2 linked regions of the Homo sapiens genome follow. Each later gene encodes a partner of the first gene's protein in a complex. Each region holds a gene or a part of one and is shown on either strand. Other genes may lie near its edges. The genes, in order: STRN and STK25.

Evidence for each region.
Region 2: STRN (region 1) and STK25 share a complex: the UniProt entries of both Homo sapiens proteins name them as parts of the core of STRIPAK complex.

What each region holds. Positions count from the first base shown.
Region 1 is NC_000002.12:36,837,279-36,841,093, forward strand, and holds the end of STRN (striatin), read right to left. Parts: 3' UTR 420-3,815; downstream 1-419. UniProt on the Homo sapiens protein: Calmodulin-binding scaffolding protein which is the center of the striatin-interacting phosphatase and kinase (STRIPAK) complexes.
Region 2 is NC_000002.12:241,498,525-241,502,339, forward strand, and holds part of STK25 (serine/threonine-protein kinase 25), read right to left. Parts: intron 3,185-3,815; coding exon 2,954-3,184; intron 2,273-2,953; coding exon 2,216-2,272; intron 1,758-2,215; coding exon 1,649-1,757; intron 891-1,648; coding exon 733-890; intron 651-732; coding exon 465-650; intron 261-464; coding exon 115-260; intron 1-114. UniProt on the Homo sapiens protein: Oxidant stress-activated serine/threonine kinase that may play a role in the response to environmental stress.

The sequences.
Region 1 (3,815 bases):
GCTGGGCTCAAGCCATTCTCCTACCTCAGCCTCCAGGGTAACTGTTGTGCCACCATGCTCAGCTAGTATTTTAAAAATTGTATGTAGAAACGAGGTCTCACTATGTTGCCCATGCCAGTCTCAAACTCCTGGGCTCAAGCGATACTCCTGCCTCAGCCTTCCAACGTGCTGAAATTACAGGCGTGAGCCACCCTGCCAAGCCCTAATATAAAGTTTTAAATGAGAAAAGGTATTATAAACATGGTCAACAAAAATAATATAGTTTTGGAGAAAAACACTGGCAAATAGTAAGAAAAAGGGTTTACATGTAGTATAAAAAGAGCACCTGCAAATTTTAAAAAACACAGTGGAACATGGGCAAAACTTTAATAAAATAACAAAATAAACATTTTAAAATGCAAATATGCAATTCACTCAAGTGAAATTCAAAAGGCAAAGTTTTATTTGGAAAAAGTACTTTTGAATGTGGTCAACAGACAACTTACAAGAGTTGGAAAAAAATGTTTGCATCCAAGATAAGAAAATCTGAACATATATTGTACAACATACAAAATGCTTTCACAAACTAGTTAACTAAAAAGACAAACGGTACAAACATATGGACCAAAAATAAGAAAAATTTAAAAATGTATATAAAAGTATAACTACGAATATTTGTGGTAGGCAGAATTCTAAGATGGCCCCCATGAACTCTGCCCCTCATGTTACTTCCATGGTTGATGTTACATTGCAGGGCAGAGGGACTTGGCAGATGTAATTAAAGCTACTAATCAGTTGACCTTAACAATCTGGGTGTGCTTAAACTAGTCACAAGAGCCCTTTAAAAGCAGTTTTCTCTGGCTGGTAGAAGTAGAGTCAAAGTATAAAAATAATTTGATGCACCCTGGCAAGCTTTGAAGGTGGAAGGGACCACGTGCAAGGACCACGGAGCAACCTCTAAAGGATCAGATTTGACAGTCAGCTAGGAGACAGGGACCTCCATCCTCTGACTTTAATGAGGCTGGAAGCGAATTCCTCCTCAGAGCTTTAGTTGAGTACCCACCCTGGAAGACACTTTCATTTCAGCCTTGTTGGGCCTTGAACAGACAGCCCAGTTGAGTTTCCCTGGAGTTCTAACCTACAGAACTTTGAATAGATAATTCAGTTCTGAGTGCAATCCAGATGACCAAAACATTTGAAAAGATGTCTACATTTATAGTAGTCAGGAAAATGGAAATTAAAATAACACTGAAAAATCACTACATCCACCAGGATTTTTTTCTTTTTTCTACGTATTTTTTAATGTTACAATAGTTATTGCCATGAGTATTAAGGGAAAAGTGTTTTTATACATTTACTGATGGAAATAAAAACTGTTCCGGCCACTTTGGGAAACAATCTGTCAATATTTATTTAAAAATTTAAATATACATACTCCTCAATGCAGCAATCCTACTCCAGGGAATCTATTCCGCAGACGTAAAACCATCATGGTGACAAACATATACACAGGAATGTTTATTGTAATAATAAAAAGGAAATAAGAGCTATGATAGACTTAGAGAAATTCTCATCCTACATTGTTAAATGAGAAATGTGAGATGCAGAGAACGTACATGATCCCATTTATTTAAAGCAAACTGCCCACCAAAATATCTTCTCATTAACGTTAGACTGTATATGTTTACTGATAAATTTGAGAGACCTTTAAAAATTTGTAAGGTGCTCATGATACACATTATATTAGAAAAAGCAAGTGCAGCATAATATGTAGAATAAAACCCCATATGTAATAACTGGGTATACACATTTGTATGAATAATTAGAAAGATACATATCAGGGAGGTAGGAATGAAGGGGTATGATGGGACATGCTTCGTTTTGCCATTATGAATCTTTATGCATTGTTTTTTGCATTTAAATTCATTTCTGTCACTTTCTTAACCTGAAAAACATCAAATCATCCCCCTTCCCTGCTCTATTTTTTTTCCCTCTGCACTTATCACTAATATTCCCTATATTTTCACTTGTTCCCCCACCTGGAATGTGCTGCATCAGGTGAAGTTTTTGTTTACTGCTGACTGCCAGCAACTAGAACTGTGTGGCATATAGCTGGCACTCAAATATTAAGGAAAGTAGTCTTCTGCTACTCTTGATGTTCATTTTAACCTATTTCTCCTAAAACCCTGATGTTCTAGAAGCTATCAGGAGTGTGACCGAACTACATGACCAGAAGTCTGTATTCAGAGAGTGAACAAGTCATTTGCTGGATGCTTATTTTATTAGGTGTTTTACATCCGTTATCTCAAATCAACCTAATTAGGCAGATCTATTATCCCCATTTCATAGATGAGAAGCCAATTTAGAAGAGTTGACTTGTCTAAAATCTAACAGACAATAAATGTCCTATTGTCCAGGCCAAATTCCTGCTTTCTTCTGTGTTGAACTGATCTTAAAGGAATCATATTTTTAGTAATTTTAATGACAGTTCTTACATGGTATATGTTTAATGTTGAGATTATTCGTTGAATATTTCATATGTAATTTGCTGATTCTTTTAATGATTTAAAGTCATTTGAATATTAAATATAAATAGTTGGTCTCTAACTTGTTGACTGTTTTATTCCTAAAACAATTGCACTGTTCAGCTAAAGCCCTGGGCCCTGCTGGAGTGCTGTCAGAAAACCAAAGACAGAGATGTTCCTAGGAGAGTTAATAAACATTGGTACAATTACTATAAAATCTTCAAGACAAAAACCAGCCTGAGAGCATCCTGAGGAACTTTGTCCCAGAATTTTCCTCTCCAAAGAAAGCTCCCCAGAGGGATGCCTTTCCTGACAAGATTCCACTGGGAGGTTCGTCTTTCTCCTGGACAACAGCAGTCAGTAGGGCCATCTGTAGGTTGCAAGGAAAGAGTGTGGAAGTGGACCTGTTCTGAGCCCAGGATAATCAAGGCAGGCTCAGGTTCCAGGCTAGAAAAGCTCCCTTTCAACTGATCAGAGGCCAGTGGGGAACAGGGGATGAGCAGAGGAGATATGGGGGTCCGGGGATAGATGGGAGGTCATCAACAGGGTTTAGGGACACCTTCCTGTCCCCACCATGCTCTGCTCAGTTTTCACGCAGGCAGGACTGGAACTGTGCAGTATAAAGACGTTGCTACTCAGGCATTTTGTTGCTACCTGTGAGGTAAAGTCCAAATTCCTCTCCAGTCAAGGTGCAGACCTCAATCTCAGGATAAGCTCCACAGAACCAAATGCATTTGAGCATCAACTGTCAAGAGATTTTTTTTTTTTTTTTTTGGTCTTTGATGATTTGTATAATTTAGATTTTGAAATGGGCTCTCTGATTACTCAGCCAACAAATATTTATAGGGTACCTTTTATATGGCAAGGCACCAGGCACAGTGCTAAGAGGAACATAAGAAAAACGAACATGGTCTGTGCCTTAGGGAGCTTATATAGACAAAAGCAAACAAATAATCATTAACCTTTATTTTTGTAGGTGACAAATGAGCAATGCATAATATGCAAAATCTGGGTTAAGGGAGAGAATCAAGATATTCAGAAAAAAAATCTCATTACCTGCTCCTCATGCCTCAAAAAAAATCCAGAAGATTTTGAAATGCAGGAGATAAACATCACATATTCCTTATTAATCTTTGTATTCCAAAAATAATTTCTGAAAATCACAGGAAAGAAAACTTTTGTGTATTTATTAGCAGAGGCAAGCTATACTATCAATTGGACACCTCAAGGGCACAAAATTGCCTGGAACTACAACCTTCAAGTTCAAAATTTCTACCTCCAGAAAGCAATGATGTTTCTAAAGATTCTCTT
Region 2 (3,815 bases), about 200 Mb from region 1:
CCCAACACTATATCTGGTCACCCTCACCCCCAGGGCCCACGCCCCTGCTTCTGGAGTGGGGACCACCCACGTCACAGCACCTAGGGTCACCATGAGGATAAACCAGGTCCCTACATGTCAGAGTCCTCAGAGCTGGACTCCTCGCCATGCCCCTCTGACTTCCAGCGCTTATAGCGGTCGATGAGCTCCGTGAGGAAGGAGGTCTTCTTGGTGTAGCGTGTGATGAACTTGTGCTTCAGGAGCTCCTTGGCCGTGGGCCGCTGCAGGGGGTCAGGGGAACACTAGTCACTGGGCCCAGCCAAGCTCTGCCTAAGGGAAGCAAACGTGAGGCAGCCTGGACCGGGGCGGGCCCTCACAGCTACAAGGCTGGTGGGCCTGGGCCTCCGGGCTGTGCCGCCCACCCCAAGCGAACGCCCTCCCTCCACGTCCTGTCTAGAAGGGACCGGGCCAGAGGCGGGCCTTACGAATCGGGGGTCTTTGTTGAGGCAGGCCTCCACGAACTCCTTGAAGGGCTTGCTGTGCTGGCCCTCCAGTGTGGGTGGGCTGTTCTTGGGAATCAGGAACAGGACGCGCATGGGGTGGAGGTCAGAGTTTGGAGGCTCCCCCTTGGCCAGCTCGATGGCTGTGATCCCCAGGGACCAGATGTCAGCCTGGACAGAACACAAGGACTGTTGCTGCCCTGAGCACCCGAGCCAGGCATGGTGCCCGCACCTGCCCGCCCGCTGCACCCACCTTGAAGTCGTAGGCCGACTGCTTGATGACCTCAGGTGCCATCCAGAAGGGGGTGCCCACGAATGTGTTCCTCTTAATCTGCGTGTCTGTGAGCTGCCCTGCTACCCCAAAGTCCGCCAGCTTCACGTCACCCTGCTCCGAGAGTAGCACGTTGGCAGCTGCTTGACACAGGACAGGCAGGCGTCATCCCAGGCTCCACGTGGCTCCACCCCGGGCCCCCTGAGAAGGGCCAGGGTACCATCCACCTGGCCTCCTAGGGCACAGCAGGGCTGTCCTCAGGACCTCAGCCCTCCTTGCCACTCTCAAACCCAGGGCCACCTAGGGCCACAGGGGCACTGCCAGCAGGAGCCCAACGGCTCCACTCCGAGCTCCAGGGCTCTTCCTGCATTTGGCTTTTACGACAAATCCCAACGACAAGCGACTTCGCCCACTGGGGGCTACCGCAGAGGTGACCCTGACCAAGGGTGTAGCCAACACGGGCCTGCCAGGAAGCCCCCTGCTCCACCAGAATCGTCCCCTACATGACAGAGATGGCTCGTTGCCAGTGGCAAGTCCCTCCCCATGGGCTGGCCCAGCCTCCCGTCTGCTCTCAGCAGGGCCAGACCACACGCTGGGGCTACTCAATTCTACACCTGCTGCTGTGCCGTGCACCACAGGGAACCAACAACTCCAGCCAAGTGTGGCCCTTTCCTACACTCAGTCCACAGCTGGTTTCCTCAGCGTACAAGGAAACCGTTACAAGTAGTATCTTCTGGAAAGGGAGCGAGACAGGACTGCTCAGTTTCAGGGTGGCCACAAGGTTCTCTATACTCCAGACCCTGGGCACCACTAGCCACTTGCCCCTCACAGGCCCCGGCCTCTCTAAGGTCAGTGGGGCTCAGGACGTTACAAGAGCCACATCCACCCCCAGCAGGACCTTTGATGTCTCGGTGGATCTTGCGTTCGGAGTGCAGATAATCCAGGCCCTTCAGAATCTCCCGCAGGATCGTGGCAATGTATGTCTCCTCCAGGGGACCTGGTTTAAGCTGGAGAGGAAGGTGCGACAGCAGGGCCTCAGCTCCTGTCCCAGGCCCAATGCCTGAGTTCTCTGCCTCTCTCACAGGGAAGGGCTGTCCCTGCAGATAGCTGGGGGCTTCGTGTTCCTTTACTTCCCAAACAGAACTAAGTTTCAGATGGGAGTGGGGTGGTGGAGGCTCTTTCTAAAGCATATAAACCAGCCTCACCTTACTGTCATGTAACAGAAAAATAGGCTCCCAGCCATCTCCCAGCAGGCCTGCCCCCGCCCACTCCCACAGGCCAGGACCCCTTTCAGCACCAACTGGGCAGACGTGCAGATGGCAGTTCATTTTTGCTTTAGACGATTCCTAATTAACACCTAACGTGCCATGACACCAAACGAGAGGTGGCCCCTGGAGCCCATGAGTCTGAGGGGCAGGGGACTCGGACACTGCATGACCCCCCACTGCCATGGCCTATGCCTCACCAAGTCCAGTGCTGAGCCGCCGCCCAGGTACTCCATGATGATCCATAGCTTGGTGCTCTGGGACCGGAGACAAACCCATCAGCATTTGGCAGCAAGAGGAAGGGCATGCTCCAGGGTGGGAGTCACAGGCCGGAGTCAGCCAGGGCCCAGGCCCCACCGGTCCCATCCCTGCCAAGAACCCTGAACAGGAAAGGGCTCTCTCGGCCTTGCCCATCTTCCCCTCCTGCCACACTACTGCTACAGATGCTCAGAGGACAGGTTGAGTACACACAGCAGTGGCTGACTCCACTTCACCAAGACCCCATCAAAAACCAGGCTGCTGATCCAGTCCTACAGGGCTGGGAAGAGGGCATGGCTGGCAAGCATGTGACCCGACACACCCATCACCCTCCTGGGCAGGATGGCCACAGCGTTCCCTACACCCCAGACACTGGCACCACCAGCCACCTGCTCCTCACAGGCCCACTCACCACTGCCAGTAGGGGCCCCCCAGAGTGCTCCTAGCAGCGCCCTCACTGCATTACCACAGGCAGGCAAGTGGGTCCCAATGGCCATTTAGAGCCAACTGACCCTCGTGGACGAGGGCTCACACCCTGCCTGCCCAGGGCAGTTTCCCGGAGGGCATGCACTGAACCGTCAAGACCGCCTTGCACCCTCTGGCATGTCACTCAGTCCCTCTGACATGGAAGAGAGCCGGGCACAGCACCAGCAGGGTCCCCGCCTCCCCACAACAGGCACCTTTAGGTAGGAGCCAAAGTAGCGGGTGATGTAGGGGCTGTCGCACTGACTGAGGACAGTGATCTCCTGCTGGATGTCCTCGATCTCATCCTCGGCCTCCTCCAGGTCGATGATCTTGATGGCCACCACCTCCTTTGTGTGGTTATCGATGCCCTTGTAGACCTCCCCAAACGAGCCCTTGCCAATGCGGTCGAGCTTGGTGAAGAGCTCCTCAGGGTCCACTCGAGAGTGCTGTGGGGCCAGGGCGGGGACAGAGGGCAGACAGCGCCGGTCACAAGAGGCGGGGGACAGGCAGAGGCTGCCCTGCTGGGGAGGAAGGGACCTGTAGGGAAGGGGGAGTCCAAGGGAGCGCACCTCAATTCTTCTCTGGTTTCTTCCTTTCTCCCTTTTTGTTCAAAAACTAAACTTGGCCGGGCGTGGTGGCTCACGCCTGTAATTCTAGCACTTTGGGAGGCCGAGGCAGGTGGATCACTTGAGGTCAGGAGTTCGAGACCAGCCTGGCCAGCATGGTGAAACCCCATCTCTAATACAAAAAAATTATCTGGGCGTGGCGGCTCATGCCTGTAATCCCAGCTACTCAGGAGGCTGAGGCAGGAGAATTGCTTGAACCCGGGAGGCGGAGGTTGCAGTGAGCCAAGACCGCACCATTGCACTCCAACCTGGGCAACAAGAATCAAACTCCATTAAAAAAACAAACAAACAAACAAATAACAACAACAAAAAAACCTAAACTGAACTTTCCATGCAAGGGAAAAAGTCCCCAGAAAGTATAAAGAGGCCAGGCCAACTCGATGAACCCTGCTGGAAACAGGAGCTTTAGGTGATGACACGGCATGAAGGTTGCCTCATCTAACCCGAACAA